Homo sapiens: one gene and its partners. The protein of the gene in region 2 interacts with the protein of the main gene of each other region in a pairwise test. Each region holds a gene or a part of one and is shown on either strand. Other genes may lie near its edges. The genes, in order: BICD2, RBM41, NINL and RALYL.

What was found.
Region 1: the proteins of RBM41 (region 2) and BICD2 interact in binary tests that used the Homo sapiens proteins (3 or more experiments, as listed by UniProt).
Region 3: the proteins of RBM41 (region 2) and NINL interact in binary tests that used the Homo sapiens proteins (3 or more experiments, as listed by UniProt).
Region 4: the proteins of RBM41 (region 2) and RALYL interact in binary tests that used the Homo sapiens proteins (3 or more experiments, as listed by UniProt).

The regions. Positions count from the first base shown.
Region 1 is NC_000009.12:92,726,822-92,733,849, forward strand, and holds part of BICD2 (protein bicaudal D homolog 2), read right to left. Parts: intron 2,416-7,028; coding exon 2,203-2,415; intron 1-2,202. UniProt on the Homo sapiens protein: Acts as an adapter protein linking the dynein motor complex to various cargos and converts dynein from a non-processive to a highly processive motor in the presence of dynactin.
Region 2 is NC_000023.11:107,087,811-107,094,838, forward strand, and holds part of RBM41 (RNA-binding protein 41), read right to left. Parts: intron 1,081-7,028; coding exon of another isoform or gene 1,030-1,080; coding exon 626-1,029; intron 1-625. UniProt on the Homo sapiens protein: May bind RNA.
Region 3 is NC_000020.11:25,470,504-25,477,531, reverse strand, and holds part of NINL (ninein-like protein), read left to right. Parts: intron 1-442; coding exon 443-1,489; intron 1,490-7,028. UniProt on the Homo sapiens protein: Involved in the microtubule organization in interphase cells. Overexpression induces the fragmentation of the Golgi, and causes lysosomes to disperse toward the cell periphery; it also interferes with mitotic spindle assembly.
Region 4 is NC_000008.11:84,186,255-84,193,282, reverse strand, and holds part of RALYL (RNA-binding Raly-like protein), read right to left. Parts: intron 1-7,028.

The DNA of each region.
Region 1 (7,028 bases), on a different chromosome or scaffold from region 2:
AGACCTGCAGCATCTTTAACTTGCTGTGCTCATTTCCAGTCTTACCTGAAGCCAGCAGGGTCACCCAGCCCTCTTTGGCCTCTGCCACCAGAGATAGGCCTCTTGGAAGAGAGAAGGGGCAGAATGTGCTGGGCTGGGGAGACAGCACCTGCACACGCTTTTCAGGAATAGACGGGCCAGACAGATGGCAGCTGGGGCAGCCAAGGATACATCTCTCCATACACACAGCCCCTCCTCCCACCGACCAGAGGGCTCCTTGTGAGAGGAAATGAGATCATGTACTGCCGCTTCAGGATCTGAGACTCCCCACCCTGAGTCTAAGCCAAGCTCCTCCCTGGGCCCCTAGGGCCTCAGCGATCTCTGACCCCTCACTCCGCTGCTGACCCCGAGGGCAGCATCCTTCAGTACTGGAATGCTAAGCCAACAGCAGCAGCCCTAATCACTGCATACCCTCAGGGCCTATGCCCTGCTGACCTCCCGTAAGATTATCTGCTGCAGAGGGTGGTGCTCCTGTGTCAGGAACAAGGGTCCATAAGTGCTCCCACAATGTGGGGTGAAAGACCTGTGGGGCATCCTCTACAACGGGCTTCAGAGACTGCCGGTTTACAGATGGGGAAACTGAGGCCAGGACTAAAGATAAGGCCTTGCCCAGGCCCCAAGGCTCAGTGAAAGGCAAAGCCAGTATCAGCCCATTCTCAACCGACCCATGCTCCACTCCTCCAGCCATTCCCAATGAGAACCTGGGGCTGACCCTCAAAGGCCACGGCCAGGAGGACTGCAGCTCACGTGCCAACTTCCAGCTCCACTTGCAGTCCCCAGGGACCATCCCACCTCCATCTTGGTGATGGGGCCTCATCCTTCCTCAGAAGGCACTGGCCCCTCTTGCCCCCAAGACAGTCGTCTCAGCCTCACTTTTGTCCCCACAGCCCACTCCCCGTGTAGCCACCAAACCCAAGCTGGACCCTGCCTCCTTCAGGGCCCCACCCAGGCCTGCAGGACTCTCCTGACACTCCTCCTGCCCTTGGCTCAGCACCACAGTGAACATGCCCCTGCCCCAGGGACAGGCACGGGGTACTGCTCTCCCCTGATATCTGCCACATGCCTTCTAGGAGAATGAGGCTTTGCTCACACTGTTTCCTCAGGTTCCACAGACACCGAGGCCCTGGCAGGGCTCAATTAAAATATGTGCCAGTCAGTGAGAAAAGACACTCAGGTGCTCACTCAACCTTCCCTGAGCCTCCTGTTCAAGCCAGCGAGACTCTCCTCCCACCTGCCCCAGTGGATGGAGACTCCTGGCTCTCCTCCTCCTGCTGGGCTCAAACTACACAGGTTCCAGGCACCACAGCAACCTTCCCAAATCCTGCTTTGGCCACATCGTTCCCCTGGGCTCCCCAGTCCTCCACAACTCCAGGGCCTTAGTGTCAGGGCCATGAGCAGCTGGTCCTGTGGCCTTTGCCCCTATCAGGGCCCAAGAGCCAAGCTGGTTCCTCTGACTTCATGTTCACAAGTCATGCACGGACTTGGACGGATTCATGGACGGACACCACAGTCCCATTTCCAGATGTAGAGCCTGTGCCATGTACCAATGGCTGTCCATGGGTACCCAGGACTCCAACAGGCTCTGGTGCCAGGGACCACCCACCCAGACCCTCCCTGCGGGCACTCTGCTGTGAACAAGGCAGGGGTGTGGCAGCTGGGGCTACTGGCGGTGGTCTCCACCCCTAATTCTCAGACACGCACACCCTACCTCGAGTCTCCATGGAATATTTGGGGTTTGTGTTCTTATTACAGCTGGGCACAGTGCAGGCCCTGAGTGACACAAAACATTCCCAGGGCAGGGGGGAGTCCAATGACGAGGAGTGCCCCATGGGCATCAGCCCTTAGCCTCCACAAGGGGCTAACTGCACCCCTCCCTGACTGACCACTCCTCTGCTCTGGACTTGCTCATGGGACTCGCTTCATGAGTGAGACAGAAGCAAGCCAGAGGCAGTGGAACTTGTGGGTCCATCTCTCTCCCTTCTGCCACGTGGAGGACAGTGGCAGTGGAGTGCAGTGGAGGATGAGACCAGGAAAGCAAGACAGACCAGCCAGCTGCAGCGTCCCCAGAGGCCAGCCCAGCCCAGCCACCCACCAGGCACACCTGCTATGTGACACTGGTGGCACTGCTGCAGCCACAGACTAGGCCCCTCCTCACCCCCTCACCTCCTTCAGCTCCTGGGCCACAGAGGCCAGGCGCTCATTCTCCGACTGCGTGTTGGTGAGGACATTGCGCAACTGCTTCAGCTCCGTCTGCAGCTCTAGCACCTTCCGCACGTAGTACTGCTCCTTGGAGGCCGACTCCTGGATCAGGCTCTCCTCCCGGCTCTCTCCGTCAGCAGCCACCTTCTTGTGGTTTGTGTGTGCTTGTCCAAAGGCCTGCATCAGAAGACAAGACACTCGTGAGGTGGGCCTCCCAGGGGCGCCGAAGGATAGAGACCCAGCTCACAGGCGACATTCATGCTGCAGAACAACAGCAACAACAACGGGGACTGTGGGCCTGAAGGGAGGCCCCCTGACCTGGGAGGTGCATCTGTGGCGTGCACTGTGGTGTGCACATATGCAAATGCAACAAGCTGCACCCAAGGTTCATCTGCTTCACCAAAATAAGAGAAAGCCTGGTCTCTGAGGAACAGTGTCTGCACTGGCAAGACAAGTGCTGGAGTCAGGGAGCTACAGTGGGCATGTGTGACAGCAGCTGGGGGCCGGCAGAGGGAGCTCCCACACAGCCCCCACCTTCTCCCCACTCCAGATGGCACGCCGGCCACCACATATGAAAGGCAGAGGGAGTCTGTCCATCCTGCTGCCTGATGCTGGCTCATCCTTCACTCCTTCTGGGAGAGACCTGGGCTGAGCAGTCAGAGCCCCAGGCCCGAGGATGGCAGTGATGGTAAGAACTAGACAGAGGCCAGCACAGTGTACCACCCACTCTGCCCAGTTCCTGGCTCAGAAGCCAAGATACCAGCATGTTCCAGAGGGGTGAGGAACAAGGGGCGCGGGGGCTGCACGTGGCAAAGAAGTGCAGGGCCTTGGGGCTCAGGGAGGAGACCTTATGGGTGAGATCAACCAGAAAGGGGTGCTCACCTAGCCCAGGACGCCCACCTGCCCACGCACCTGAGAGTCGACAGCTGTGTCATGTCCATGCCCCAAAATCCAGGCCAGCCAGCCTCCCATCGTGTACACCCCAGGCGAGTGGCCCAGCCTCCAAGCAGGTGCCATCCCTCTCCTTCCCTCCCACTGCCCACTACCCCCACATAGCTGGCGTGGCAGGACAGGGCTTCCATGGGTAGAGGGCAGACGGGCCGCAGTGTGTCACCCCCAGCAGCCCGTCTCACTGGCCACTCCACCACAGAGCTCTTGCAGAAGACCTTATCTTTTTACATTAATCCTGGCTCATGGCAGAAAACAAGATCAAGAGAGAGGTGACTGAAAGCGGATGGCTTTGTTTTCCTAAAAGAGAAAAAGGAGCATTTTTCACTCATTTACTATTTAATATTAAATCTAAGAATTCAGTCCAAGAAAATAGGGAAAATGTAAAAAACCATGAATAAGGATGTTACTGAGCAGGACAGTTTCTAATTTCAAGAAATCAAAACAAAGAGTAACTCATTTCGTCCCAACAGGAGACTGGTAAAAGAAACCAGGGTCTAGTCTGAGTATAGACTCTCATGGGACCAACAGGGGACTCAAGGGGAAGACAGACTGATTGATCTTACAGCACTGTGAGGATCACAGGATCCTGCCTGGAAGAGCACACATGTGCTATGGCAGGTGTGGTGACATGTGCTGTGATGTATGTGTTGTGTGTGTGTGTCTCGTGGTGTTGCGGGGGACACCCCTAAACAAGGCTAACAGGACAACACAGCCCAGCAGGAAGACTGGTGCTGGCAATGGGACTGCACGGGGGGACTCGGGATTGACATGGACACTCCTGCTGCGGATGCACAGATGTCTATGGCACCCACACTCCTGAGGAGGCTGGGTCTTGCTCACCTGCCCCCACCCATCAACACAACACCCACTACGTGGAAGATGTCCGCTTTTCTTCAAGGCAATCGGGTCAGCTCTGTGATTTCTGCTCTGTTCTTCCTTATCCTAGTCCCAAGGAAGGTCCAAATCATAATGTCTACACAGCACCTCATCCACCCTGGCCAGCCACCCCGGGCCACAAGAAGGGAAACCGGACATGGAATTGGCCCCAGCTGCAGGCTCCCCACCCAAGTGGCAGCCAGGCCCCAAGTCCCTCATTGGGTGAAGGGCCCGCCGGCTGCAGGCGGCATGGGCAGCGCCAGACCATCTGGGCCTCCTGACAAGCAGGAGGGACCCAAATGAAGGGTCCAGCACACATGGCTGCTCAGAACACACCCACGAGCCTGGAGCTGGGGATGCAGACATCACCTCAGAAGCTTCCTCCAGGTATGACAGCTAAATGCCATGACACGACATTCAAGTCCTAGCCTCCTGGCCTGAGCCCTGGATCTTTTCCTCTGCTTAAGCTCCCAGCCTGGGGCCCAAAACACTCCTGGGCAGCTTTTCAAACACACTGAGATACAGACTTCCGCGTACAGCCAAGATGAGATTGTTGCAGAAATTAGAACTACCTTCTGTGTGAAAACTTAAAAAAAAAAAAGAAAAAGAAAAAAACCAGGCAATGATAGAATATAAATAAATAATAAGCAGTGGTTTTCACATCATGGGCACTAGATAGTGAGAGACAGGAGGAGGGGAGTTCCAGGAGCCCCCTCCACCAAAAGAACTTCCCAGCCATGGAAAAATGGGAGACTGAGGCAAGGCGTGGCAGACCCTGTCAAGGAGGGACTGGAAGATGGCGGAAGATGGCAGCAGGGCAGCCAAGCTAGGCAGACCTGCACACAGGGCCAGAATCTCCACTGAGGACCAGGGAGCACAGAGCTGAAGAAGTCACTGAAGGACCACTGAGGGGGCAGAGAAAGCAATCCCCACCATTTATACCAGCCAAAAACAGTACCTGCTCCCAACAGCAGAGGAGAGCCCTCCTGATGCACAGGCAGCTGGGGAGCACTCCCAGGGCCTGAAAAAATTAGTCTGGATTAAATCTGCTCTGATACCACAGAGCAAAGCATAAAGACAAAACCTGAAAGGATCAATCTGATTCCAAGTCACTTAACTACATCCCAGAACAAAGCTCAAGAACACATGAAGGAATACAAAAACATCCATCTCCCAACAGGTGAGGTCCACTGGCTGGCATCCCGTCACTTACCACTGAGCAGGCAAAGGCGCACAAATGAGGAAGACAGAAAAAGATCCAGATAGAACTTCTAGAGACGAAAAGTACAGTGGATGGGATTCACAGCAGATAAAACAATGCAGAAGAAAAGATCAGTCAACTTGAAAAACCACAGCAAACTATCCAAAATGAAACACAGAGAAAAAAAGGCTAAAAGACAAAAGCAAGACTCAAACAGAGCATTGGTGAAGTATGAAGTATGACACAATTTCAAGAAGCCTTATGTAAGGAGTAATTGGAGTACCCAAAGGAGAAAAAGGGGAAAATAGAAAAAGTAATTGAAGAAATAAATCATAGCTGAAAATTTTCCAAATTTGATGAAAATTATAAACCCACAGATATCAGCAGCTTGTCAACACCAAGCACAAGAAATATGAAGCAAACTACACCAAGGCATAATATAAAATTGTTTAAAACCAATTATATAATAAAAATATTTAAATCAGCCAGAAGAAAAAGGATACATGACTCAAGAGGAGCAAAGATAAATGACAGCTGATTTCTCTAACAAGCCAGGAGATAGTGGAACAACATCTTTTAAACAACAAAACAAAAAAACTTAACTAGAATGCTATACTCACTGAAAACTGTTCACAAATAGAGGTGAAATACTTTAGAGATACAAAAGCTGAAAGAATTTATCAACAGCAGATATGCATTGGTATTTAAAGATATGCTAAATAAAATCCTTCAGGCAGAAGAAAAATAATACCATATGGAAATCTTTATCTACATGGAAGAAATGATAATTAAATAGGCAAATATAAAGTACTTATTTTTCTTATTTAAATCTCTTTAAAAGATAATTAACTTGAAATTCAATGCAATCCCTACCAAAATTCCAAAGCCTTTTTAGCAGAAATGGAAAAGGTGATTTTCAAATTCATATGGAATTGCAAAGGGCCTAGAAGAGCTAAAACAATATTGAAAGGGAATAACAACGTGAGAGAACTCACAATTTCAAAACTTAATACAAAGCTACAGTGATCAAAACAATGTGGTACTAGTGTAAAGATAGATACAGAGACCAACGGGATAGAATAGAGTCCAGAAATAAAACCTCATATATATGGTCAATTGATTTTTGGCAAGGGTACAAAAATAATTTGATGTCAAAGAATAGTTTTTCGGCCAGGCACGGTGGCTCATGCTTGTAATCCCAGCACTTTGGAAGGTCGAGGCGGGCAGATCACGAGGTCAGGAGTTCGAGACCAGCCTGGCCAACATAGTGAAACCTCGTCTCTACTAAAAATAAAAAAAAATTAGCTGGGCGTGGTGGCGGGTGCCTGTAATCCCAGCTTCTTGGGAGGCTGAGGCAGGAGAATGGTTTGAACCCAGGAGGCAGAGGTTGCAGTGAACCGAGATCACGCCACTGTATTCCAACCTGGACGACAGAGGAAAAAAAAAAAAGTTTTTCAACAAATGATGCTGGGGCAAGTAGATACATATATGCAAAATAATGAAGCTGAACCCCTACCTCACATTATACACAAAAATTAACTCAAAATGAATCAAATACCTAAATATAAGAACTAAAACTATAAAACTTTCAGAAGATAGGCTGGGTGCGGTGGCTCATGCTTGTAATCCCAGCACTTCGGGAGGCCGAGGCGGGCAGATCACGAGGTCAGGAGATCGAGACCATCCTGGCTAACACAGTGAAACCCCGTCTCTACTAAAAATACAAAAAATTAGCCAGGCGTGGCGGCGGGCGCCCGTAGTC
Region 2 (7,028 bases):
TCAGGCTGGTCTCGAACTCCTGACCTCGTGATCCGCCTGCCTCAGCCTCCCAAAGTGCTTGGATTACAGGCATGAGCCACCACACCTGGCCTTGTTGGACAATTTCTTAAAGCTTATAGGACCTTTTCACTTTGCTGCTTTGCCAACAGCAATTTAAGTCATATGTCATATGACAGCCAGGTAGAGCATTCTGAAGAGAAGACTCATGTGGTAGCATATACCCAACTCACGACCAGGCAGTCAATTATTGGCTAATTCCAGAGGCACCAAGGCTACCAGCTATGGTGGTCCTATGAACACTATTTGATTATTACACTGTAGGAAATTGGATGTTACTATTCCTTCAATTCGGGGCTTCTAATGGGTATGGACTAGAGTCTTATCAAGATTTCTTTAAAACGCTAAGGATAGTTCAGGACCTTAGCAAAGTACCAAGAACCTTATAGGAAATATGCTACTTATATAGTATGCAGAGAATGAATAGTCAAGGTCAAGGACAAACACAATCACTGTGCCTATATCATGATTCTTTGGTATAATCAAAGCTAATTTAAAAGTATTACTTTAGGTAGAGGTAAATAAAAGCGAAATCAACCCAGGTTGTTTTACTTGGTTTGGCCTATACCTTGTTTGGTTCCCCTGGATTATATGAAGAAAACATAGGAATTTTTCGGATCTCTTCCTCTGACAAACGATTTCTCTGGATTTCATCTTCTGGGACAAATTCTATTGGCTGCGTCAGCTTCTTAGGCCCAGTCCAACACTGCTCAGGTGAAAAATCAATAACATTTGCCACATGGAGACTGGGGCCTTTACCCTGTGCTGCCTGTTTTCCCTTGTCCTGGAGTAATGATGGGCTCTCAGCTGTGCCACTATCACCCACTGATGTAGCTGAGACCAGTGAGTGGGAAGCAAAGGGTTCACCTCTCATAAGTTGAAACTCTTCAAGACGTTTTTTCATTATCATCTCTTGGTAAAAACTTTCCAGGTTGTTCATGGGATCACCTTTGTTCTTCTTTTGGGGTTCATCTGGATCAAGACAAAGAGATAGGGAAGTTCTACAAAGCCTACCAATACAACCTTTGGCAAATTAATAAAAATTAAATCCTGGACCTCAGATAAAGAAACACTGCTGGGGCAGGTCTTTACAACCTGTGACAAATGACAATGGTAAATAGTTATCTTATTATAGTATATTTCAAGCAGAACTATAGGCCAGAACTATGGTGAGGCAAGTGAGGCACCTAGAGTCATGCAAATATATGCACCTCTAATTGATAAGGACATTTAAAAACATATAAGCAATATAGCATTATACTTCACAAAATTAATAATTCCTTAGTATCATCTAATACCAATGTTATGTTCAAATTGTCCTGATTCCATCTAAGATTTTTTTATACTTGTTTATTCAATTCAAAATCTAAACTAGCCTTTGGCTGTTATATCTCTTAAGATACTTTTATTCTAAAACAGTGCCTCGTCTCTCCCATCCCTTTATTTCATTTTCTCACTCATCCATTGATTAAATAAACTACATTTGTTCTATGAACAAATGAATTTGATTAATCATTTTCTGATGGTGTTGTTTAACTTGTTCCTTAATCCCTTCTATTTCTTGGCAGATAATCCATAACTATGCTACCTAATATAGTAGCCACTGGTCACATGTGTCTATTTAAATAAATTTTTAAATATCAGCTCCTCAGCCGAACTTAACAAATTTAAAGTGTTCGACAGTCACATGTGGCTAGTGGATACCATATTGGACAGAACAGATAAAAACTATTACATCATTTTAGAAAGTTGCATTGGACAGTGCTGATCCAGAGGTTTGATTAGGTTCAGGTTCAATATTTTTAGGAAATAATCCTTTATAGACAGATATGTACTTCCTATTGTATCATGTCATAAGACACATAACGTTTGGTGGTCCTATTTTTAGTGATACTGAAATTGATCAGTGGATTGAGGTGGTAGATGGCATTAGTCTCATCCCTCCATTATTAAATTTTCCCATTCACCTTCCACCTAATGGGTTTTTTACATCCACTGATGACCACTGCCTAGTCTATTAATTTATTAAGAGTTGCAAATCATGGCTTTCCTAATTCTTTCTTTTACGCTTATTATCCGTAATTCTAAAATGAACTTACCATCATCAACTATGTGGTTTCCCTAAAAATGTAGATCATATGGGAATGGCAGGATAAATGCTTGATTCTTTGCCATTATTTACCAATTATGAGAGTAAGAGTTGACATCTTAGAAATGTCTAATGGAGGCCGGGCGTGGTGGCTCATGCCTGCAATCCCAGCACTTTGGGAGGCCGAGGCAGGCGGGTCACAAGGTCAGGACTTTGAGACCAGCCTGGCCAATATGGTGAAACCCCATCTCTACTAAAAATACAAAAATTAGCCGGGCATGGTGGCGGGTGCCTGTAGTCCCAGTTACTCGGGAGGCTGAGGCAGGAGAATTGCTTGAACCTGGGAAGCGGAGGTTGCAGTGAGCCGAGATCGCGCCACTGCACTGCAGCCTGGGCGACAGAGTGAGACTCCATCTCAAAACAAAAAAAATGTCCAATGGTGACCAATGGTTATTTTTAGTATAATAATGAAATCGTGTATTTTCATATACTTTATCTGTGTCAATTAAACATACTCATTATTCTTTTTAGTGGCCAAATTATCCCACTTAAGACCAGTGGGAGCCCCTTCAAATCGGCTCCTGTATTGCTTCTCGGCTTTCTGGCACAGCCAAATATCCTAAGCTCATCTTGCATACCTCCTAACTCAAACCTGGAATATTTTTGTAGGGACCCTTGGTTCCTTTTAGTAGGAAGTGGTATTTAGAAACCAAAGTGTGTTGCTGGTGTGTGCAGAAGCAACTTCCAAGTTGTTGTTTCCAGGCCTTTTCAGTGGACAAAAGCTAGGACATTTTTTTTAAAATGATCCACTAGAATGGTTTTATTTTATTTTATTTATTTTTTTTTAAATTTTACTTTAAGTTCTGGGATACATGTGCTGAATATGCAGTTTTGTTACATAGGTATACATGTGCCATGGTGGTTTGCTGCACCTATCAACCCATTATCTAAGTTTTAAGCCCCGCGTGCATTAGGTATTTGTCCTAATGCTCTCCCTCCCCTTTCCCTCCACCCCCCGAAAGGCCCCAGTGTGTGATGTTCCCCTCCCTGTGTCCATGTGTTCTCATTGTTCAACTCCCACTTATGAGTGAGAACATGCGGTGTTTGGTTTTCTGTTCTTGTGTTAGTTTGTTGAGCAAGAGGGACATTTTTAAAGAGAAAAGTAAACCATGAGTTTATATTGGTATTTCCAACTCAAATTTAAGATAACAAGATTTTTACTTAAACTCCTTTATTTTAGAGTGTATCTCCTCTCATATGCTTAATATTAGCAAAATTATTCATTAGCTTCTTCCTACAATATACTTACAGAATTTTACAATGTCAATAACAATACTATCACCAATAAAACTGCTGAATATAGTTTTATATTTCTTTTGCAGTTACTTTTGCCCTTAGAATATGGGTCCCATTGGAAATATACAAATGTTTTAAAGTCACTATAAGTAACTGCTTTGTTTTCCAATTGTGTGTTTATGCTACTAACTTTATTTATCATTAGGCTCATTTGCTTCAGGTTGTTTTTGAATTTTAGGGATTGAATTTTACCTTTTTGATTAAACTTTTAGATGATGCAAAATATTTACATGGATCTAAAGTGAAACTGTTATACAGTACCTTCACAGAAGTCTCACTTCCATCTCTGTCCCCTTTATCCCATTCCCTTCATTCCCCATAAATAATAATTTTTATTAGGTTTTGGCTTATGGTTCCATTGTTTCTTTTTTGAAAATATAAGCAAATAGGCATATATACACATATACATAATTCATTAGTTATACCTCTCTCCTACATAAAAAGTAACTTACTATAAGCACTGTTCTACAATTTACTTTTTTGCACTTAACAATATGTCCTGGAGATAGTTCCATGTTAATGTGTAGAGCTCTTCTCATTCCTTCGTAAAGCTGCACAGTACTCCATTGTGTGGATGTACCATAGTTTATTTAACTATTCCCCTCCTGATACACGTTGGTCTTATATCTAGTCTCATACTGTTATGAATAATGTCCTGATAAACAGCTTTGTGCATACAGGATTTGGTATTTTTCAAGTATATGTTTAAAATAGATTCCCTGAAGTGAAACTGCTGAGACAAAGGGCAAATGTGTATGTAATTTTTCTATGTATTGTTAAATTTCACGCTGTAGGAGTTATACTATTCTATATTTCCACCAGCAAGGCATAGGAGTAGTTATGTAAGTATTTCCTAAGACACAAAAAGCACTAACCATTAAGGAAAAGATTGATAAATTCAACTACATTAAAATTAAGAACTTCTGTTCATCGAGATGTCATAAAGAGATGGACCAAAAAAAAAAAACCCCACAGGATAGGAAAAGATATTTGCTACACAAAGAATTATCAGAGAACTTAAAACTAAAATACATGAATAACTCCTACAAATCAATAAGAAAAAGATGAACAACCATTAGGAAAATGGGCAAAATACTGAAGAGATACCTTACAAAAGAGGAAATACACATAGCTAATAAATATATGTGGGCCAGGCGTGGTGGCTCATGCCTGTAATCCCAGCACTTGGGAGGCTGAGGCAGGAGGAAAGTTCCTTGAGCCCAGGAGTTCAAGACCAGCCTGGGCAACATGGTGATACTCTGTCTCTAAATTAAAAAAAATAATAAAATAAATATATACAAAAGTGCTCAGCCACATTAGAATTCAGGGAAATGCAAATTAGGAAGGGTATAAGATACTAATAGAAAACCAACATATTGGCAAAAATTAAAAAGAATGCCAACATTACATGTCAGTGAAGTTGTAGAGCAACTGGTACCCTCACATATTGCTAGTGGGAATGTGTATACACAGTGCAAATCAACATGACATCATCTACTAATGTTGAAGATATGCTCAACATACAATCCATCAATTCAACTCCCACATATATACCTTAGAAAAATGTAGGCATATATGCACCAGGACACAATAATAAGAATTTTCAGATCATTGCTATTTATAATTGCCCAGAGTTAGCAAAAATACAAATGTTCATCTAAGAAGAATTAATTATAAAATTCTGGTACGTTTATATGATGAAATACTATCATCCAAAGAAAGTGAACAAATTTCAGCTACATATGTCCAAGTGGATGAATAGATTAATAAATACACTAAAAAATAATTAAGGATGCATCAATAAATAAGGATTCCTCCCTTTGTAGAGCTAAGTGAATTACATGGCATGTTAGAAGGTAGGAGTGCTATAAAAAAGAAAAAAAATACAAGATAAGATTGGAAGAGCTATGGGGTGGTTGTAATTTTTAATGTTGGTCTGGATAGGTCCCATTGAGAAGGTGCTATTTGAGTGAAGACCTGAAAAAAGCAAGGGCATCTATCATACTGATATTAGAGTAAGGTCTCAAGGTAGGAGTATGTCTCAAAAAAACTAAAAAAGACTGAAATCATATAAAGTATGTTCTGTAACCACAATGGACATACATTAGTGATCCACTACTGTAAGAAACGGGAAAACACAAATATCTGGAAATTGAACAACAAACTTCTAAATAACCCATGGGTCAAAGAACTCATAAAGGAAATTTAAAAATATTTTGACCTCAATGAAAATGAAAACACAACATATCAAAATTTATGGATGCAGCTAAAACAATGCTGCATCCATATGATAGACAGTTAAAGCTTTAAATGCCTGTATTGGAAAAGAAGAATGGTTTCAAATTTAAAACCTGAGCTTCCAAGTTAGGAAACTAGAAAAAGAGTCAACTAAACAGAAAGCAAGTAGAAGGAAGAAAACAATAAAGATTAAGAAATAAATCAACGCAATAGAAAATGGAAAAATAGAGAAAAATCAACAAAACCAAAAGCTGGTTCTTTGAAAAGTTTAACAAATGACAAACCTTTACCTAGACTGAACAAGAAAGTAAGAGAGAAGACAAAAATGACTAAAATCAATAATTAAAGAGGAAGCATCACTACTAACTTTAGGGAATGAAAAACAATTATTTAGGAATATTATAAATAACTTTAGGCCAACAAATTAGGAAACCTAGATAAATGGACAAATTCATAGAAAGATACAAATTACCAAAGCAGTCTCAAAGAAAAAACGAATAACAAGAGGGTGCATTAGTACTCAATAAACAACCCACAAAGAAAAACCCAGGTCCAAATGGCTTCATTGGTAAATTCTATCAAATACTTAAAGAAATAATACTAATCCTGCAGAAACACTTCAGAAAAGGGAAGAGAAGGAAATACTTTCCAATTCATTCTATGATATCAGTATTACACTGATAACAAAACTAAACAAAGATATTACAAGAAAACCACAGACCAATATTCCTCATGAATATAGATGCAAAAATACCTAATAAAATATTAGCAAGCCTCATCCAGCAACATACAAAATAATCACACACACATAAGTGGGATTTATCCCAGAAATGAAAGATTGGTGTAACATCTAAAAATCAATAGATTAAATCTTAAATCACATGATCATCACAGTAGGTGCAGAAAAAGCATTAAACAAAATCCAATACCCATTTATAATTTTTTAAAAGCTCAATTAACTGACACTAGAAGGGAGCATCTTCAACCTGCTTATGGTAGGCTGAATAATGGCCCCCCAAAGATGTCCACATCCTAATCCCTGGAATCTGTGAAAATGTTAAATTATACTGCAGAGGGGAATTTGCAAATGTGATCATGTTAAGGTTGAGATAGGAAGATGATTCTGGATTATGCAGGTGGGACCAATGCAATCATAAGGGTCCTTATCAGAAGGAAGCAAGAAGGTCAGAGACAGAATGGGAGATGTGATGATGTATGCAGAGGATAATGTGAGGAAGGGGTCAAGAGCCAAGGCATGCAGGTAACCTCTAGGATCTGGACAAGGCTC
Region 3 (7,028 bases), on a different chromosome or scaffold from region 2:
CAGCTTCAGGGAATTAGGGGACAGTTTTGGCTCTGGGTCTCCAGCGCTATCGTGTAGAACCCACTGCAGTGTGGGCCACGTCGTATGTCTGCCCTGTCCAGTTGGGAGCCTTGAGGGCTTGGAACGTGGCCTGCACGGCCGAGGGGCTGCAACCAGGTCCTGCATGGTGGCGGCCATCTTCCATGTGAACACTCCACATGGAAAGGGTTCGTGCTTGGGCTTCCATGTGCAGAACCTCGCTCCGTGGGGCGGATCCTCGTCTGGACTCTGAAGTAGGGCCCAGGGTATAGGTTGAAGCCAGGGCTGAGGGAGGCGAGGAGGGATAAAGAAAGCCAACCACAGAGAGGAGGTCGCAGCCGTTGCAACAGCTGGGCAGACTTCAAACCCGAGAGAGGGGCTGGGGGCGGCAGGGCTGTGGTGTGTGACGGTTCTACTTCCACAGGAGAGAGGCTGAGGCGGAGCTGAGTGGAGAGCTGTCGGGGCTGGGAGCCCTGCCCGCTCGCAGAGACCTGACCTTGGAGCTGGAGGAGCCGCCGCAGGGACCCCTGCCACGCGGGAGCCAGAGGTCGGAGCAGCTGGAGCTGGAGAGGGCACTGAAGCTGCAGCCCTGTGCGAGCGAGAAGCGCGCCCAGATGTGCGTATCGTTGGCCCTCGAGGAGGAGGAGTTGGAGCTTGCCCGCGGGAAGCGAGTGGACGGGCCCTCCCTGGAAGCAGAGATGCAGGCCCTGCCGAAAGATGGGCTGGTGGCAGGAAGTGGCCAGGAGGGCACACGTGGCCTCCTACCACTGCGTCCGGGCTGTGGGGAGCGGCCACTGGCCTGGCTGGCCCCAGGTGATGGCAGAGAGTCTGAGGAGGCGGCAGGAGCCGGGCCTCGCCGCAGGCAAGCCCAGGACACAGAAGCTACGCAGAGCCCGGCCCCCGCCCCTGCCCCGGCATCCCACGGCCCCTCAGAGAGGTGGTCACGCATGCAGCCCTGTGGAGTGGATGGGGATATTGTCCCAAAGGAGCCAGAGCCTTTCGGCGCGAGCGCAGCGGGGCTGGAGCAGCCTGGAGCCCGGGAGCTGCCTCTGCTGGGAACAGAGAGAGACGCCTCGCAAACCCAGCCACGGATGTGGGAGCCACCCCTGAGGCCGGCCGCTTCGTGCAGGGGACAGGCTGAGAGGCTACAGGCCATTCAGGAAGAGCGAGCACGAAGCTGGAGCAGGGGCACCCAGGAGCAGGCCTCGGAGCAGCAGGCCCGGGCCGAGGGCGCCCTGGAGCCTGGGTGTCACAAGCACAGTGTGGAGGTTGCCAGGAGAGGGTCCTTGCCATCCCACCTCCAGCTCGCAGACCCGCAGGGTTCCTGGCAGGAGCAGCTTGCTGCCCCAGAAGAGGGGGAGACCAAAATAGCGCTGGAGAGAGAGAAGGATGACATGGAAACCAAACTTCTACATCTGGAAGACGTCGTCCGGGCTCTGGAGAAACATGTAGATTTGAGAGAGAACGACAGGTTTGCCTTCTACTCATTCTTAAAACTAAACACTTCAAACTAAAAATGCAGAACTAACCCACTGACCCCTGTTGCTAATGGTGCTATGTGGCCCTTCCTGCCGACAAGCTCGCAGCCCCTGATGGGGGCTGTGTAGCCCTTCAGCCTGAGTAGGGGTTGTGAGCCCAGCCCCGTCCCGGAATGCCACGGTCATCTGGTGCTCTACCACTGGGCAGAGGGAGGGCAGGACTGCCTTTCGGGGTCCTGAACCCACCTTCCGGGTTCAAGATATTCTTGTGCATCAGCCTCCCAAGTAGCTGGGATTACAGGCACCTGCCACCACGCCTGACTAATTTTTGTATTTTTAGTAGAGACGGGGTTTCACCATGTTAGCCAGGCTGTCCTCAAAGGTGATCTGCCCGCCTTGGCCTCACAAAGTGCTGGGATTACAGGCGTGAGCCACTGCGCCCGGCCCTCGCTTCCAAAGATTTTTCATTGTTGTTCCCAGAAGAGGCTGTATACCCATTAAACAATAACTTTTGCTAGTATTTTGTTGAGGATTTTAGCATCAATTTTTGCATCATAAGGGATTGGTCTGCAGTTTTCTTTTCTGGACTGTAGTGTCCTTGTCTGGCTTTGGTATCAAGTAATGCCTCATAGAATGAGTTTGGAAGTGTTCCCTTCTCTTCAATTCTTGGAAGAGTTTGAGAAGAGGTGGTGGAAGTTCTTTTTTAAGTGGTAGAATTCACCAGTGAAGCCATCAGCTCCTGGGCTTTGTTAGGAGGTTTTTTTGTTTTTTGTTTTTTGTTTTTTTTGAGACAGAGTCTCGCTGTGTGGCCCAGGCTGGAGTGCAGTGGTGCTGTCTGGGCTCACTGCAACCTCTGCCTCCCAGGTTCAAGCGATTCTCCTGCCTCAGCCTCCTGAGTAGCTGGGATTACAGGCGTGCACCACCAGGAATCAGGAATTTAAAACCTCGTAACAACTAGGGCACGGTGGTTCATGCCTGTAATCTCAGCACTTTGGGAGGCCAAGGTGGGTGGATCACCTGAGGTCAGGAGTTCAAGACCAGCCTGGCCAGCGTGGTGAAACCCCATCTCTACTAAAAATACAAAAATTAGTGTGGTGGCGTGCGCCTGTAATCCCAGCTACTCGGGAGGCTAAGGCAGGAGAATCGCTTGAACCCAGGAGGTGGAAGTTGCAGTGAGTTTTGAGATCGCGCCACTGCACTTCAGCCTGGGCAACAAGAGCGAAACTCTGTCTCCAAAAAAAAAAAATACAAAAATTAGCCGGGCATGGTGGCATGCGCTTGTAGTCCCAGCTACTTGGGAGGCTGAGGCAGGAGAATCGCTTGAACCTGAGAGGCAGAGGTTTCAGTGAGCCGAGATCACACCACTCACTGCACTCCAGCCTGGGTGACAGAGCAAGATTCCATCTCAAAAAAAAAAAAAGTTCCTTTAGTGAAACTCTGTTTAGAGTAAATTTCCTGTTTTTGCTTATCTGAAAAGTATCTTAAATGTTCCTTCATTTTTGTAAGACAGTATTCTTAGGAACGCACATCTAGCCATTAAATGGCCGCCTCTCCACCCTTGGAATGTCTGCTGTCCGTGTCAGAGACCCGGTTGCTGACACTGCATGGTTGGCCCTTGGTCCGTCTGTTCTTCCTTCGTGTGCATTTCCACGGACTTGGTGGCTTAACAAGGCACAAAAGTGCGATGTTTTAGTTTTAGAGGTTGGAAGAGGAAAGGGTCTCCTTGGGCTAGGAATGAGGTGCTGGCAGGGCTGCAGGGCCATCCAGAGGCCCCGAGGGGAGCTCCCTGCCTCACCTTCTCCAGTGGCCTTGACTTGAGGCGTCCTTCCATCCTGGAAGCCAGCCCTGGATGGCCGAGTCCTCCTCATGTCACCTTACTCCAACACTGACTCTTCTGCCTCCACTTTCTACCTCTAAGGACACTTGTGATTACGTTGGGTTCCTCTGGAGAATCCAGAATAATCTACAGTCAGAGAACGAGCAGCCTTCATTCCCCCTGCTGTGTAATGTCACATAGTCTCTGTTAGAGGCCAGTATTGTGCCATCCACAGTAGGTATCTGACTTTTGTGCTCTGGTTACTTCTGAGACCTGTATCTTTAGTGGTTTTTATTTGCTGTGTGCATTTCTTTCTTTTTAACTTTTTATTTATTTATTTATTTATTTTTTTGAGACGGAGTCTCACTCTGTTGCCCAGACTGGAGTGCAGTGGTACAACCTCAGCTCACTGCAACCTTTGCCTCCCAAGTTCAAGCAATTGTCCTGCATCAGCCTCCCAAGTAGCTGGGATTACATGTGCCCACCACCATGCCCAGCTGATGTGTGTGTGTGTGTGTGTGTGTGTGTGTGTGTGTGTGTGTGTATGTGTGTATTTTTACTACAGACGGGGTTTCACCATGTTGGCCAGGCTGGTCTTGAACTCCTGGCCTCAAGTGATTTGCCTGCCTCATCCTCACAAAGTGCTGGGATTACATAAGGCCTGAGCCACCAGGCCTGGCCACTTTGTTTTATTTTATTTTATTTTATTTTATTTTATTTTATTTATTTTATTATTTTATTTTATATTTTATTTTATTTTATTCATTGTAGAGATAGTCTCTCACTATTTTGCCCAGGCTGGTCTCAAACTCCTGGCCTCAAGCGATCCTTCTGCCTCAGCCTCCCAAAGTGGATCCTCCTTGAAATTACAGGTGTGAGCCACCATGCCCAGCCTCTTTTTAACTTTTTATTAAAGTGTGATACACATAAGAAAATGTATATATTTGTACAATTAGGAGAATTGTCAACAAATTGAACACGTCTGTGTTACCAGCGCCCAGAACAAGAGATGGAATTCACCAGAGTCCCCGGGGTAACCACTTCTTACAGCATAGATTCAGTTTGCTTGTTTTTGTACTTTATGGAGAGGAATCATGCAGTGTGTACTCTTCTGTGTCTGACTTTCTTGGCTCAACCTGGTTGTGCGATTGATCTGTGTTGTTGCTGTAGTTCATACATTTGCATTGCTGTGTGGTATTCTGTTGTGTGAACATACCACAGTTTATTCTTTTCTCCTGTTGATGGGCATTTGGGTAGTTCCTAGTTTTTGGCTCTCACAAATGGAACTGCACTGAACGTTCTTGCATTTGTCTTTTGGAGCATTATGTTGGGCTGTACCTAGAAATGGGATTGTTATGTTGTGGGTATAGGCATAGTTTTCTTTTTGTTCATCCTACTTAGAAAACATTGTCCCAGCCAGGCACAGTGGCTCACACCTATAATCCCAGGACTCTGGGAGCCCAGGAGTTCAAGATCAGTCTGGGCAACATAAGGAGACTGTTTTCTACAAAAACTTAAGAAAAATTAGTCACACATGGTGGCACGCACCTTTGGTCCCAGCTATTTGGGAGGCTAGATGGGAGGATCACTTGAGCCTGGGAGGTTGAGGCTGCAGTGAGCTGAGATTGCACCACTGCACTCCAGCCTGGGCGGCAGAGCAAAAGGGAAAAAAAAAAAAAAAAGAAATATTTTCCCTGTTGAATGTATGGATTGCATTGGTGTCTCATGAAAATCTCTCAGCCATTACTATTAAAATATTGCCTCTCCGGAGGTTGCAGTGAGCCAAGATCGCGCCATTGCACTCCAGCCAGGGCAACAAGAGCAAAACTCCGTCTCAAAAACAAAAAAAAAGTATATATATATATATATATATATATATATATATATATATATATCCTCTCCTCCCACTATTTTCTTCAATTAGATATGTGACTGTTAGAGCATTTCACTTTATGTCTCAACCTCTCTTTTATATTTTCCATCTTCTGTCTGTATCACATTTGGGGTATTTTTTACATACCTATGTGTTCCAGGTCAGTATCTCTTTCTTTCAGCTCTGTGTAATCTGCTATTTAAACCATCCCATGAGTTTTTATTTTGACATTGACTTTTTGTTCATTTCTAAAAATTCTGTTTGGTCCTGTCTGATCATTGTCAATAGTTTCTTGTTGCTTGTTCATTGTTTGTTGCTGTCTTTTATTTATGTAAACATTTCATAACACTTATTTTTAGTTTGTGTCTAATAAGTCCAATACCTGCAGTTTCTAGAGGATTGAATTCTGGCTTCTGGCTTCTGCTGTCATTTATGGGTGGCTTTGCTCCATGTATGTTATGGTGATCTTTGATTGTGAGCTCATATTTGCTTGATGTTAATCTCTGGGAATATAAAGAGCCTTATATGGGATGCTATTGCTTTTGCAGAGAAGTGAGAAGGTGCTAATCTGGGACTGTCTGAACCTCCTTCCAGGGCCCTGTCTGGTGCAGGTGTCCACAGTGCAGCTTCTCCATTCTGCTAATAGCAGTGCTGACACATAGGCATTGGTTGCAAGGTCCCCCCAGCTTTGTGTTGCATAGTGCTCACGCGTTGGTTTCAGCTTCCAGGATTTTGTTTTGTTTGGAGATTCTTGCAGGTTTTCTTTTCTTTCCATGAGGACAGTCACAGAGGTTGCGATCAGCTTTGCGCAGGATCTAGTTGTTTGGTGGTCATGTGGGGGATGGGGTAGGGCACCCCTCAGCTTTCGGCCTTGCATCAACTTGTTCTCCATTCTAGAGCCAGAGTGATAGTTTAAAAACACAGAACTCTCCTGCTTGAAACCCTTTGCTGCCTTTAATTCCAGTGACTATTTATTTTTGTCTTTAGTTCCTCATGAGATAAAATGAAGGCATATGAAGAAGATACTTATGTTTACTATTATAAGTATAATACATAAAGCGGGCTGGGCGTGGTGGCTCACATCTGTGATCCCAGCACTTTGGGAGGCCTAGGTGAGAGGATCACCAGGAATTCGAGACCAGCCTGGGCAACCTATCGAGACCCCATCTCCACCACAACAAAAATTATCCAGGCGTGGTGGCGCATGCCTACTGTAGTCCCAGCTCCTGGGCCTGGGAGTTCAAGGCTGCAGTGAGCCATGATCGTGCCACAGTACTCCAGCCTGGGTGACAGAATGAGACCCCATCTCAAAGAAAAAACAAAAAAATACATGAAGTGAACATGGTGAGATCATGTGGCTTTCAGTATTTTCAGACTGAAAAAATAAGAAGCTAGTACCATATGGAGACCTATTTGGGGAATACACGTTAGCCTTACCAGTCAGTATTAAGAATGCATTCTCTGGGTAGCAAGTATGGGTCTTAAGCTACTTCACTGGTGATCTTTTTTGTTTTTTCACAGACAAGGTCTCACTATGTTGCCCAGGAGGGTCTCAAACTCCTGGGCTCAAGCAGTCTTCCTGCCTCAGCCTCCCCAGTAGCTGGGATTACAGATGCATGCCGCCACTCCTGGCTCCCATTAGTGATCTTCATTGGTAAATTGCCATCTTCATCTATCAAATCAATGGCATTACCCAAGCAGGGACTCCCTGAGTTGTCAGAGAACAAAGACGGCCCAGGCAGACTTGGTTCACATAGTGGCTGTCTATCCCTGCCTTTTCCCACTTTGAGATTCACCTAGCAGAGGTTTCCCATATATCTTGGCCTTCTGATTCCTGTGTTTC
Region 4 (7,028 bases), on a different chromosome or scaffold from region 2:
TGAAAAACATAAAGATGCATTCATATTTTCCTTACTGTGGCTTTAAAAATATCCTTCCTTCAATAATATTACTTCGATGAGTAATATTTCATTCCCACAATTTAACATTAAACTTCATTTTTTTTGTCTCCATATCTTCAAGATCCCAGATGACCTTAAACATGGGCAATTGGACTTCTGCTTCTATTTAGCCTCAATAAACATATTTTTTTCTCAATGGCAACTAATAGACTATTCAACTTTCCTTACGAAAAAAAATTCAAATAGATGGAATACTAGAAAGAATAACACAATAAAACCAGCATAAGCACTCCCTGATTTAAAGTTGGTTAACAAATGATTATTTTACATATACACGTACACAACCCCCCCCCCCACACACACACACACACACACTCCCTCCCTCACTCCTTTGATGACTCATAAGAAATTCAGTTGCGGGCTGGGCACGGTGATTCCAGCAGTTTGGGAGGCCAAGGCAGGCAGATCACGAGGTCAGGAGCTCAAGACCAGCCTGGTCAACATGGTGAAACTCTGTCTCTACTAAATATACAAAAAATAACTGGGCATGTTGGCACACGCCTGTAATCTTAGCTATTCAGGAGGCTGAGGAAGGGGAATTGCTTGAACATGGTAAGCGGAGGTTGCAGTGAGCCGAAATCGTGTCACTGCACTCTAGCCTAGGCAACAGAGCAAGACTTTGTCTCAAAAAAAGAAAGAAAAAAAAAAAGAAAATTCAGTTTCATGTATCACTGCATTTATCCCAAATAATTCAGCACTCATCTGCTAATATCATCTGTTTTCTAGCCCATATGAAAAATTTCCCAATTCTACCAAAATTTGACTTTTTATAGACCACATTTTTAAAAAGTGAAATAAAATAAATCTTCAAGCACTGCATTTGTTTGTCTTTAGTCCTTTTTAATCTGGAAAAGTCCTCCCACAGTGGCACTGACATTTTACAAGTCTAGGCCACAGGGCTGGTATGTATCTTCAATGTGGAATACCTCACCTTATGCATTTGTCTCATTATTTCCTCATGGTTTAGTTTAACTGGTCCTTTCTCTGAATTTTTCTATAAACTGGAAGTTAAATCTAACCAGGTTTTATTAGATTCAGGTTAGACATTCTAGCAACAATATTTCACAAATGGCACTATAGCCTTTATATGGCATCTCGTCAGGAGGCTCATAGTGTCAGGTTGTCTATTGGTGATGTTGGGTTAAATCATTCAGTCACTTAAAACGATGACTTGCAGATGCAATTAATACTTGAGCACTATGAGAATATGTTATTCATCAAAATAATTTTAATTGATTATTTTATCACTTGTTGATCATCTTTGACTGAATCACTTACTTCACTGAGAGTTACAAATAGTAATTTTCTAATTCTTACATTTCTTACACTTAATTCACATTATTTTGTAAAAAGCTGTCCCTCATCAACTAAGAAAGGCAGGCTAATCATTTAATTATCTCAATTTAATTATTAATTGTCATTTTTCTTTTTTATATATTTATTTAGAGTATCATTATGCACTCATGGATTTTACTTTACTCAACGTTTACAATTTGTTATATTCACTCTTGAAATTCAAACTGATTTAAATTGCACAACTGGAAGGCCCTTCAAGCTAGCACTTGTTTACAATGATACAGCCTTATTTGTCTTTGACCATTTCCTTACTTTCTGCAGTGAGTTGTCCCAGGCTCATCTTGTGTTTTTTCTGCCCAGACTTAGAATCAGCCAATTCTAGGTTAAGGAAGACTAAAGGGCTCTTGTCCTCTTGAATGGGGAATGATATTAAGAAGCCATGCTTTGTGCACTAGAAGGGCTCATTGCTTCCTGAAAGACATTGCTTTGAAGATTTTTCAGTAGACATAGCTAGTAAATATATTTATTTTTAAAGCTTTATAGTGTATTTTATTATGTAACAGGTTAGCCCTCTCTTCTTTCTCAGAATATTCTCTGCTATTTTTGCATATAAATATAAATTTCAAATCAATTTAGCTAGTTTCAGGAAAAACTTCCTACTGGTCTTCCTATTTAGATCATGTTATCACTGTACACACACACACACACACACACACACACACAATCACACACACACACGACACATACAATCCTGGGAACAACAGCCCTCTTTATGACGCTGCCACATCATATTGAGGATCATCAATCACATTCATTTAGTTTATTTCAAAAATTCATGGATTTTAATGACAGATTACAAAGCTTTTATCTCAGGTCTTATCTTCTTTTGAGCCTATGCAGCATTAGCTCTGTTGAACAATACTTACATACACACACACACACCCCACATACTTTTTCTGAGCTTCAGTGGCTATCATCCTAACTCTATTTTTCTGCCCTTTATCAGCCCCTTTTACATTCACTCAAAAAAAAAAGCAGATGTTCCCAAATTTCTACCTGTGCAGGACTTATTCCCACTTAAAGAGTTTTAATGTAGATGATACTGTCATATCTCCTTCTAGCCTTAAGTGTGCTTCCCAGCTCTAGACCTGAATTTCCATTGCACATTGGTCATTTAATCCAGAAGTTAATGTCAGAACTTCAAATTACTATGTTCAAAATTGAATCATTTTCCCACCTCCAACCAAATAAGGCTCTCCTACAGATACTACTTTCTCTTGTTTTGTTTTATACCACCTGTTTTCAAGATATCCAGATTCCAAAATTCAAAGGCAGCATTTAACCCTCCCTATACTTTGACCTCTAAATCCACTGATTTTATGAACGTGAGGACTTATGACCAAGTCTTTAAAAATCCATCTCATCATGTGCATTCACACTGTTTCCACTATAGTTTATGTTTCCCATTCTGCATTGAAAGTATTCACTTTTTCAAGTTCCAAGGAAACTAATGATGGAAGACATTCTTGCACATCTGAAGAGGCAATTAAACACAGAATCCTCAAATAATATGTTACACTTATATGTGTTTTATGTTACTAACATAAAATGAGCTTGATAAATGTCACATACAAATATGTGTAACAGTAAAATTGTGAGGTGTTATGATGTTGATGGTGAGATGTTGGTAGACAGACAAGACACCTATATTTACAGAGCTCTGTGTTATGAAAGAATTAGCTGTTCAGCTTTCCTTGCACAAAAGACTAATTTTCCACATCACACTGCAAAAGCTCCAAGAGTAGAGATTACATTTTGTACTCAGTAAGTAAATGCTGAATGTGTTTCCCAGGCTCTCTGCAAAGCAACTAAGGACAGAGAACCGTCTCTTCTGACCCAACCACAGAGCAACAGTGGTAACTCACAAATGTGATGCCATGCATTGGCTCTCTTCAGAAAACCCGTCTTGAAGAGATGTGTGATGACATGGTCACAGAAAGGTCCTTTCAGGACCAGTTAAGAGTATCTGTGTGGGGCAATATTCTTTTGTTTCTGCTCAAAGCACTCACTAGTGGAAAGCACTCCCTGTTGAAAACTTGCCAAACTACAGACATCTTAAGTAATGTATCAAGAATAAATACATAACAGTTGTTTTATATTAGGAAAAACAAAAGAAACAAAAAAATCATCTCCACAAATGAAGCATATCTGTGTAGGAAAAAAAAAAAAAACATGAGTCGTCAGTTAAGACTTCCTACATGTCAAATTTCCCTTTACCACCTATGGAGCTCTGAGCTCCAAGTCTCAGTTTCCTCCAACATATAAAATAATACTATTATCTAATCACGGAAGGGAAGTACAAATGGAATTGCATTCATTTGACACATCAATTTCTTTCCCTCTCATCTTGATTTAATGAAAAAATAGCCGTTCCTTACTCCCACCTGTTAATAATTTCCGAAATGACTCAGAAATGTGTTGCTCCTCTTATTATTTAGCATATGGCTATCAAAATGTGTATAAACATTTTCTCTAAACACATGGATTATGTATGAATGCAATCAATTCCCACTCTGAAGTTTGGGAAAGAATTCAAGCAAAAAGCATATTAGTGAGTTAAATGGAATTTTGCCAAACATATTTATGCACAGAAAATCTCTAGTATTTTGTAATATAAGAGCACTTAGTGATGCATGCTATTGTATCTTTCAGAAGACCAGTGCAAGACTTCCACGTTCTACTCCATAATTTTCCTCTCTATTTAGATTTTTACATGGTCAAATAAATAACTCTTAGAGTCTTGACCCCCAGCTGAGGAGTCTGCAAGGACAGCCCAGAAAATGTAAATCCTAAATACTAACTCAAGTCCTCCAACTGCCATCTCTGTGGCTACAAATGGATAGAAAAAGACATTAAACCAATGCCTCTATTTTCCAGGACTCAGTCCCAGAAAAATAGCAGGATAATTCAAAACTAGCAAACAAAAATCTTTTTAAACGTAAGGAAGAATTTAGAAAAACACAAAGTTAATTTTCCACAAGGTAAGTTTGATATTTAACATAAGTCTAACAAAAGAAAACAAAATTCCCAATGTATTATTGAAAATCTAAAAGCAATGAGGATAAGCAAAACTACTAAAGTTGGCAATAGCTGTGTTATATCTATGCAGTCTGCACATCAAAATTTAATAATAAAAGGAAGGGTGATGACAAGTATAATTATGTAAACTTGTTAACAGTGTAACTTGCTATTGATACATTCAGAAATCAGATATTACTTACATGTTATTGAATATTGTTTTCAAAATCATGATTTAGCAAAACAAACTGTTGTTATTGCCAATAAAATGAAAGTTTATGTTGCCTGCCAATTACTGAAGAGAAATTTATTAAATCAAAGAATCAAACTGAATTATGGAAATGGCATCTTTACAAGCATTCGTACAGGTCACTGGAAGTAGTAGATAGTAACAGTAATAAGAGAATAATAACAATAACTGCAGATCAATAAGGACCTTTTTAAACATGTTATTATTTACTTTCTGGAAGTCCATAAAAATTTGAAGAATAAAATTAATCATTACTTCAGGTTTTCATAGCAAAACACAGAGTTTTCATAATGACAGTATGATAAAAGAAGTAAAGAAATAACTATTTTTAAAGTCTCAGCTAATCATCATTTAAAAATAAAGATTTCATGGCCGATAAAACTATCTGTACAGCAAACCCCTGTGACATGTAATTTAGCCATGTAACAAAACTGTACATGTACCCCTTGAAACTAAAAGTTGGAAAGAAAAAATAAAAATAAACAACTAAAATAAAAATAAAAGTTTCAAAAGTCAGAGAGAAAAATCAATTGTAATTGAAATATTTTTCTCAAATTCGTCCTTACTATTCAAACAATCTTACATACCCACTTCACTTCTCTTCTACTTCCATAATGGAGCTTTTTGAAGACTTGAAATGTAGAGTTATATCAATGAATGCCCTGCTTAATTAGTTGCTTACACTATCAGTAAACAGTAAACAAAACATGACCACACTTTTACTGGGGTAGAGTTGCAAAAACGCAACAGACCTATACTTCTCACTGGAATTTCTATATACTTACTACTGGCTCTTAAAATAAGTCAATATTGCATTTAAGGAACAGCTATCCAAATATTTCACATTTCTTTTAATTAGGAAGAAAATTTTAGCATATCAAATTATTTTTCTAATTAACAATTTGTATATTCTTAAGGCATCATTTATTTGTATTATTATAGTAGCTCTTTTAACCACTAGACTTTCATATAAATTAGAGAAAATAAACCAATTATCATTTTTAAGAAAGGTAACACATCTATTATGGCTAAGGATGTGTCTTTATAATTTTATGTTTGGAACTTTTCCCCCTTGTATATACACCACCACGGTGTGGCTATTTGATGCATGTTAAGAAAAAAATCAGGGTGTTACTTGATTATGACCATAAAAAATAAATATGAAAAATAATTAACTGTTAATCTTCAATGATGAAAAGTTATTCATTTAAATATTCTTCAACAGACCACACACTCAAGACAGAATTCCAACTAGAACTTTCTTTCTTTATATCAAGACTGAGATAGACATTGAAAAATTAATTTAGTAATCCAAGATTTTAAACAATACCCACATTTTATTATCCCATAAAAAGTTCTTGAAAATTTAACAGGTTTTCATTTTGTGATTATTTCTTTGTCACAGTTTAGATAGTACAATGTTTGAGGTCAGATAGTGATCCAATGCCAATTTAATTTGTGGGTCTTATTTCCCTCAGTCCCCACCTTTACCTTGGAAACCCTCTCTCATTACAAAATAGAAACTTTTTTTTCCCTCCTTCTCGCTTAGTAAGCAGTTGAAAAGATCTGCACAATTAAATTGATCTAAATCCCTGTGGGTCGCTTGGCGAATGAAAAAATACATTTTTTCCATGAGAAGCCAGTAGGCGGTGCTAAATCTAGGATACTACCTTCAACAATTTTAAATCAAAAACTAAACAGGTGGCCAGTTTAAGAGTTGTAGAATTCCCAGAATGATTCACACAGGAAGAAATCTGAAAAATTTGAATGTAATAGATAGAAATGTAATACAAGTCTACAATATAATTAAAAATGAATCTTAAATAAATGAAAACATAGATAACTAAAGGTTCTTAGAATGATCTTAAGTTACAGAAATTAAAGCACAACTACCTCTCTGTCCTCACATTAAAATCGTCTTTGGTCCCATTAATTGTTTCAATCTCATTGGGAAATATCACACAGTACAGCTAGTGCTTTGCCCAATCTTAAACCACATACTACCTCAACCTTAGGGCAGCAACTGATTCTCTTAATGAAAATGCAGGTTCGATCATTCAAGTTCTTGCTTGCTTGCTCTGTCTCTCTCTCTCTTAAAAGAACTAAACGACTTACAATACATAAAACATACAAAAATATATTATACACATAAATTGTCTTGCATTTTAATAAATGAGCATTTCTATGTACATACATTGTTATAATTGAAATGATTTTTAAAATCACAGAATGTTGCAAGTGGCTTTTTTAATGTTTTATGTTAGCTGTTTGAGGCATATGAAAGACTGTATTTTAGTAATTAGCTCACTATACAAAATAAGAA